Linked DNA regions of Homo sapiens. The protein of the gene in region 2 interacts with the protein of the main gene of each other region in a pairwise test. Each region holds a gene or a part of one and is shown on either strand. Other genes may lie near its edges.

What was found. Proteins that work in one complex are often made in the same cells at the same time.
Region 1: the proteins of CMTM6 (region 2) and SPG21 interact in binary tests that used the Homo sapiens proteins (3 or more experiments, as listed by UniProt).

The regions. Positions count from the first base shown.
Region 1 is NC_000015.10:64,969,307-64,973,060, forward strand, and holds part of SPG21 (maspardin), read right to left. Parts: intron 917-3,754; coding exon 808-916; intron 57-807; coding exon 1-56. UniProt on the Homo sapiens protein: May play a role as a negative regulatory factor in CD4-dependent T-cell activation.
Region 2 is NC_000003.12:32,482,232-32,485,985, forward strand, and holds part of CMTM6 (CKLF-like MARVEL transmembrane domain-containing protein 6), read right to left. Parts: intron 1,867-3,754; coding exon 1,729-1,866; 3' UTR 1-1,728. UniProt on the Homo sapiens protein: Master regulator of recycling and plasma membrane expression of PD-L1/CD274, an immune inhibitory ligand critical for immune tolerance to self and antitumor immunity.

The DNA of each region.
Region 1 (3,754 bases), on a different chromosome or scaffold from region 2:
TTTTGACAATTCAAGGTAAGTCTTGAAGCCAGTTCACTCTGACCCAAACTTTCTAGCTGCAGGAAGAAACACAGGTAAAGTTTTTGAAATAATTTTGTTTTTCACATTTACATTAAATCCACAGACAACATTTGTGCTTATAAAGGTGGTATCATCTGTGGTGGGGCCAGAAAAGTCATCAGTGAGGAACCACAACTTAGGTGAGAGACCATGAACTGGGCTTCTCAGGAGGTTGTGGCATTTTTCTATTCTGGAAACCTGGGTACAAACCAATGAAACCCGGCCTTCTACAGCCCTCAGCCTACACTGCCTACTCCAGCCAGGTGCCCATGGGCAGCAAGCCAATTCCTACTGCTCAAAGGTGACAGATATATGTTTTTGTTTTTTTTTTTTTTTTAAGATAAACCTTTAAGGGATCTTAAAAGAGATTTGAGAAATCATCTAGCCCAGCAGTTCCTAAATGCAAGCCAACAGACCTGGTTCATCAGATTTACCTGGTGGGTAGAGGAAAAGTGTGAAGTAAAAATAGATTCCCAGATCCCATGCCCAGGGATTCCAGATGGATGATCTGCTGTGAGGCCTTACAATCTGTATTTTTGAAAGCTCCCCTAAGTGATTTTGATGAATAGCTGGTGGGAAGCACTGATGTAGGCAAGCCCTTACCAGCAATAATATCTGCTCAGATGTATTACTCTGCTTAGCAAATACCTCTTACACATACTTGTGAGACAGATCTATCTTCTGGAACCAAGTAGATGTGAAAATTCCCAATACAATGTGTCCCCAACCCAATGTCATGATCCTTACCCTGTCTACCATGAAATCAATGGCATCAGCCATCATAGGGTCCACCGGGCCAGATGAAAAATTTCCAAGAACTATTTTTTTGAGCATAAATGCAGGCATCAGCCAAAAGCTGTAAAACACAAAGACCTTATAATTTAAACTTCCAAGACTACACATGGCAAATATTCATTCAACATTAAAGCTTTGTATTAGCTTGGGATCTAGAAATAAAAAGTCCTAATCCCCTCCTCCAAAGAGCTCAGCATCTAGTTTTTACACACACTTTCCCAAGCTTCCAAAGAGTTATGGCTTCATATAATTAAACTTTTATTTGAGGATTTAGGATAATTATAAGAGATATTTCAAAATACCTTTACTGAGATAGACATTCTGATGAGTCCAAGATTGTTTTTTTTCTCTAATTGGCCCTATTTCCAAGGATTAAACTATTTCTTTTGGAAAACTGAATATTAAGAGAAGTATTCTTTCCTTCTGGTTGATATTATGTTTTTATCGATTGATATTTCAAAACAGATTTCAAAATACCAATATGAAAGCTATTGCACCTCCCCAAATTTGCTACTATTAGATTCAACTTGGCTAATTCAAGGCAAATTGATATTTATAGATTTATTTTTTAAATTTATTATTGTTATTATTTTTTGAGACAGAGTCTCAGTCAGTTACCCATGCTGGAAGTACAGTGGCATGATCTCGGCTGGGTGCAACCTCTGCCTCCCGGGCTCAAGCAATTCTCATGCCTCAGCCTTTCGAGTAGCTGCGACTACAGGCACATGCCACCACGCCCGGCTAACTTCTGTATTTTTAGTAAAGATGAGCTTTTGCAATGTTGGCCAGACTGGTGGTGAACTCCTGGCCTCAAGTGATCCACCCACCTCAGCCTCCCACAGTGCTGGGATCACAGGCGTGAGCCACTCCTGGCCTCTTTTTATTTTTTAATTAAAAAATTTAAAAAAAAACTTTTAGAGACAGGGTCTCACTCTGTTGCCCAGGCTGAAGTGCAGTATTGTGATCATAGCTCACTGTAGCCTCAAACTCCTATCAAGTGATCCTTCTACCTTGGCCTCCCGAGTAGCTGGGACTACGGGCTCGTACCACCAGGCCTGACTAATTTTTTAAAAATTTACTGAGCTGGGGGAGCCGGGGCCAGGCACGGTGGCTCATGCCTGTAATCCCAGCACTTTGGGAGGCCAAGGTGGGCAGATCACGAGGTCAGGAGATTGAGACCATCCTGGCTAACACGGTGAAACCCCGTCTCCACTAAAAATACTAAAAATTAGCCGGGCTTGGTGGCGGGCGCCTGTAGTCCCAGCTACTCGGGAGGCTGAGGCAGGAGAATGGCGTGAACCCAGGAGATGGAGCTTGCAGTGAGCCAAGATCGTGCCATGGCACTCCAGCCTGGGCGACAGAGCCAGACTCCGTCTCCAAAAAAAAAAATTTACTGAGCCAGGCGCAATGGCTCATGCCTGTAATCCAGAACTTTGGGAGGCCAAGGTGGGTGATCACAAGGTCAGGAGTTCAAGACCAGCCTGGCCAAGATGGTGAAACCCCGTCTCTACTAAAAATACAAAAATTAGCCAGGGGCGGTGGCCAGCGCCTGTAATCCCAGCTACTTGGGAGGCTGAGGCAGGAGAATCACTTGAACCTGGGGGGCAGAGGCTGCAGTGAGAACGTGCCACTGCACTCCAGCCTGGGCAACAGAGCGAGACTCCCATCTCAAAAAAGAAAATTTTTTTTCTGTAGAGACAGGATCTTGCTCTGTTGCCCAGGCTGGTCTAGAACTCCTGGACTCAAGCAATGCTCTTACCTCTGCCTCCCAAAGTGCTGGGATTACAGGTGTGAGCCACTGTGACTGGTCAGATCTTTACGGATTTCTATATATGATCTTTAGTTTATATTTATTCCATTAATTTCAACTGTTAAGAGCCATCATGGAGGGCAAACACTAATTTCTGTAAACCTATGACGAAAATTACTTAGATGAGGTGCAAACTACCTTCTGATGCTTATTACCACTGGGACAGCCTTGCTGGAAGTTGAGCTTCCCTCAAAAGGACCACTAGGTCACCTTCCAGTTAACTTTCTAAGTTCTCTCCCAGCCCCATCACTTTCTTATCTTTTGAAGGTGATGAGGTCTAAGTACGCTCTGTAAGGGGTGGACCCTGTTGACTTTGCTCACTCCTGGATCCTCAGTGTGTGGCACACAGTAAGCACTCAGATATTTGACAATAAGCAGCTGATGTGCCAGAGCACAAACTGAATGGGGGCTGTCTTGGCATTCTAACAATTAGAACAGCAATAAAAATCACCAAAAATAATGAGCATTATTTAGTGCATTATCTGGACGGGAAGGATTTGTAAAGTAGCTAATGTATACAAGAAATTGTTGCATGAATGCTGAGTAATTACTAAGATAACATCAGAAAAACTAAAAAATAGCTGGGCACAGTGGCTCATGCCTGTAATCCCAGCACTTTGGGAGGCTGAGGCGGGCGGATCACGAGGTCAGGAGATCGAGACCATACTGGTGAACACGGTGAAACCCCGTCTCTACTAAAAACATAAAAAATTAGCCAGGCATGGTGGCGGGCGCCTGTAGTCCCAGCTATTCGGGAGGCTGAGGCAGGAGAATGGCGTGAACCTGGGAGGCAGAGCTTGCAGTGAGCTGAGATCGTGCCACTGCACTCCAGCCTGGGCGACAGAGCGAGACTCCATCTCAAAAACAAACAAACAAAAAAACAAACAACAACAAAAAAAACTAAAAAATATCAGAGTGCAATTTTAAGTAGATGTGAAAACGATATTTCCCTATACATTATTTGAAAACACTGATCATACAGATGTGTTTACTCACTGGGCTTTTTTTTTGAAGTAGGGTCTTGCTCTGTCACCCAGCCTGGAGTACAGAGGCACAGTTGTGGCTCACTGCAGCCTTGAACTCTTGGGC
Region 2 (3,754 bases):
TCTGATACAAATCCTAAAGGTATTGAGTCAGTAAGACAGAGCAGAAGCTATGTTGGGCCATACTGACCAATTTCTGAGAACCACATTAGCCACATTCATGCAATTAAAACCCATCTAAGACACACAAATGGCAGATGAGAAAAAAAAAAAAGGATGAGGTCATTAAACTTTATCACTGGAAACATGATTCCACTGTTTCAAATAGGAAACCTACCCTGGGAGACTTCCACCAAAGTGCAGAAGGACCTGATGCACGGGCTCATCATCTTAACACTAGAGTCCCAAGTCAAAACTCTAGGAGGAGGATAAGAAAGGTCTAGTCTGTGAATCACCTGGACAGAAAGGTCATATCCCAAGTGCCCTGCCTATCTGTGACAGCTGCTAGCCAACAGACAATTCTGGTTATGAAGTTATCTCTTGAGAATGGCTTGATTCTCTTATGCCACCAACAGTATTAGTCTGGGCAGGGTTCCCTGGATATTTACTTTTTTTTTTTTTTTTTTTTGCCAAAGACAAACTAGAGCAATGCCTATGTAAGAACAAGGACTCTCAAGATCCTGCTACACAGTATTCACAATCAAAAGGGCCCAAGATTCAGGACCACCTAAAGACAACTGACAAAAAGTGTCAGAGCCAGAGGCCAACCTCTGCTAGATGAAGCAGCAGCACATGACTCCATTTCTATCTGATAAGGAGACAGAGAAGAGGCATCTCGAACAGATGAAAAACCAAAGGCTGGTGTCCTAAAAAAAACAGATTGGCTTCAAAGAAAACACTAAGGAAGACCCACAGAGCTGTATTAATTTTAGTAAAAATAATCATATGCCAACAGGGGAATTGAACCACTTTCTAAATCATAGTATGAACTCATCTCTTCAGATACTTGGTAAGTGGTCAAAGCTTGTTTTTATAATTACTTTCACTGTCTTGGGCAAAAAGTCTTTCTTATCTTTGGTCCTTAGGTGTGGTATCAGTTTCTTCCATTTTTTTATGTGTTACAAAACAATCTTTTTTTTACTTGACATCAACAACCAAGGTGCAGTATAAACACGAAGTTGCTGATATTGTTGCTTTTATACACATAAAATACCAACATCTCCCATACATTTTATAGGCTATACGAAGGTCTCAAAGAATTAATAACCGTTATCCAAAAATATTATAACATTTAAGGCTGAGTGAAATACAGTAAAGCCTGGTAATATATGTTAAGGAAAAAAACCTAGACCAACATTTTAAATATTGGTTTCTTAAATATGTTAAATTCCCATTAACAGAACATAATCTAAGCATCAAAACAAACAGCTAAGCAAATTAATTTAAAAATAAAACAATTTCTAAGTAGATGAATATAATCACGATGTTTATACAGCTATAAAGCATAATTTGGAAGCTAAGCCTAGTAAAAGAATGACCTGTAACAGAATGACAGAATCATTTATCAACCGTTGAGCTGTGTGATTTAAAAACAATTGTTTTCTCCTCCTCCCACCAAAATCTCCATTTGAGATAAGTTTCAATTATTATTTAAAAAAAAATTTTTTTTAACTTATCTGGCCTACTTTGTGGTGACTGACACAATATTGATAAAACTGCCTTCTTGACCTTCCCCTTGCTCTCCAAAAGAAGTGGTTTAAACAATTAACAAATTTTACAAGAGCTTCTGCCAGGGCTCAGGCACCACAATGCAGGGTCACTACCTTAGGTAACATCTGCTCCCCAGAGTCTTTAGGCATTAAGTGGCTCAGTGAGGGCTTCAGCCCTAGTGGTATTTTCAGGTTTTCTCAGCTGGGACTCCTGTCGTTTTTCATACAGCATAGTGATAAAGTCAAGTAGGAACATAAAACTTGCTATAAATCCAAACACCTGAGGAAAAAAAGGAGGAAAGGTTATATGAGAATTTTGGAATATAATCTTACATTTCCTACTTGGCTTGGAGAATGTTTCATATAAACAAGATGTTCATGAATTTTATCTTATACACGACTACTCTTTAATGGTAAAAAAAATTTTTTTAAGTCATCAAAAAATGGAAAGAAGTTATAAAAGAAAAACTTCCAGAATAATGGCTATTAGTCAAAGTCTCACAAAATATTAATGTTCTGCCTTATGTGTGCATGTTTATATGTGGAGGGCTAATATATGAAAGTAGGGTTAACAGATAAACATTAAATCCTATAAAATGATACAAAACAAAAATATTTGCATGGTTAGATTGACCCACAGATGCGATAAGGAAAATACGTGACTAGGCAACTCAGCCTAGGTGAAAATGAAAAAAGTTATTAATATCAAAACAGAAATTCCATTTTGAAGATACTATTAGGTTAAATTACTTAAATAATGTTCCAGTTGTCACACTGCAATGACACAGTGACATGACGCCACTACCTACTTCCTCTTCCTTAAATCACTTCCTCAACTGTTCTCTTCTAAAATACGATCATACGTTCTGAGAATTCTATCAAGAGACAGAAGACCATGCGTCTGCTTCAAATTTAGCTTCTCCACTAGCAAAACCCTTAAGGATATGGGGGCCAGATAAGTTCTCTGTAAAAAAGAGAAAATTGATGTAGGTGATGGCTAAAGTCTCTTCCAAATCTAAACTCCCTATCTCCACGATTTTTATTAATAACATTCTCTTACAGTCTGTTGCAGTCTCCTGACCTCTCCTCCCCCCTCTAAAGAATAAGCATTCCACCTCATTTTACCACAAAGTAAACTGAGCTCCAAATTCATTAAGTCCCCCAGATATCCCCAACATATCCAATCTAAATTTAATTATCAACGCCTCCCACCCTCCCATCCCCCGCCACAAAAGCCAAGTCTTTTTCCCTCTGGAATCTTTATTTTTGACTTGATGGCATTTATCCCCTTATTTTCCTGGCAACTTTCTTAAATACATCAAACTCAGACCAAATGTCACCCTTGTTTTTGAAGCTGTCTCTGATCACCACAAGTCATCTTCTAGCTCTTTTGTTCACACACTTCTGAATTAAAAAAAAAAAAAGAACTTCCTCATGCATTTAAGTCTATAAAACTTTTCATAATTTAAATAGTTACAAAAGGTAATTTCCAGCATATTATAAATATCAGCTTTTTAAACTACCTGTCACTATTAAATATATCCAATGAAATATAAATACTGGGACAGTCTAATTAAAATATAAAAATTTTTTTTATAGCTGTAAATTTTTTCCCTGGAACTCAATTTTTCCTCAACTTCATTTCACTTTCCCCACAGAATTTTATAGTAATGTATTTTTATACAAATAAGTAGCCAGAGCTTTTTAAAATTAAAAATGAGTTAAAAAACTCATTATTTTATTGATCACCATCTCATACTCCTCTGCAACAAAAATGTTTCTAAACTGAAATTAACCATAAAGCCCTATTAAAACTTTGATTTTTCTCTTCTATTGGTTCATGTACCCATGAATAAATATTGCTTATTGCTAGAATGAATCAAGATTCAGTGTTAATTTTATTTCTATGTTTTGTTTTTACACATGTAAGTGCTAAGAAACTGTTGTCATATGAATAGATAAATATAGCCATGCAATTCTCTGAACTCCTTTTGAGTTTTCTATCATAAAATGCAGTTTTAATGATGTATTAGCTGACAACTCTATTAATTACAACTTCAATTTTGTTTTTGGTTTTTGAGATGGAGTCTCACTCTGTCACTTACACTGGAGTGCAGTGGCACAATCTTGGCTCACTGCAACCTCCGCCTCCTCGGTTCAAGCGATTT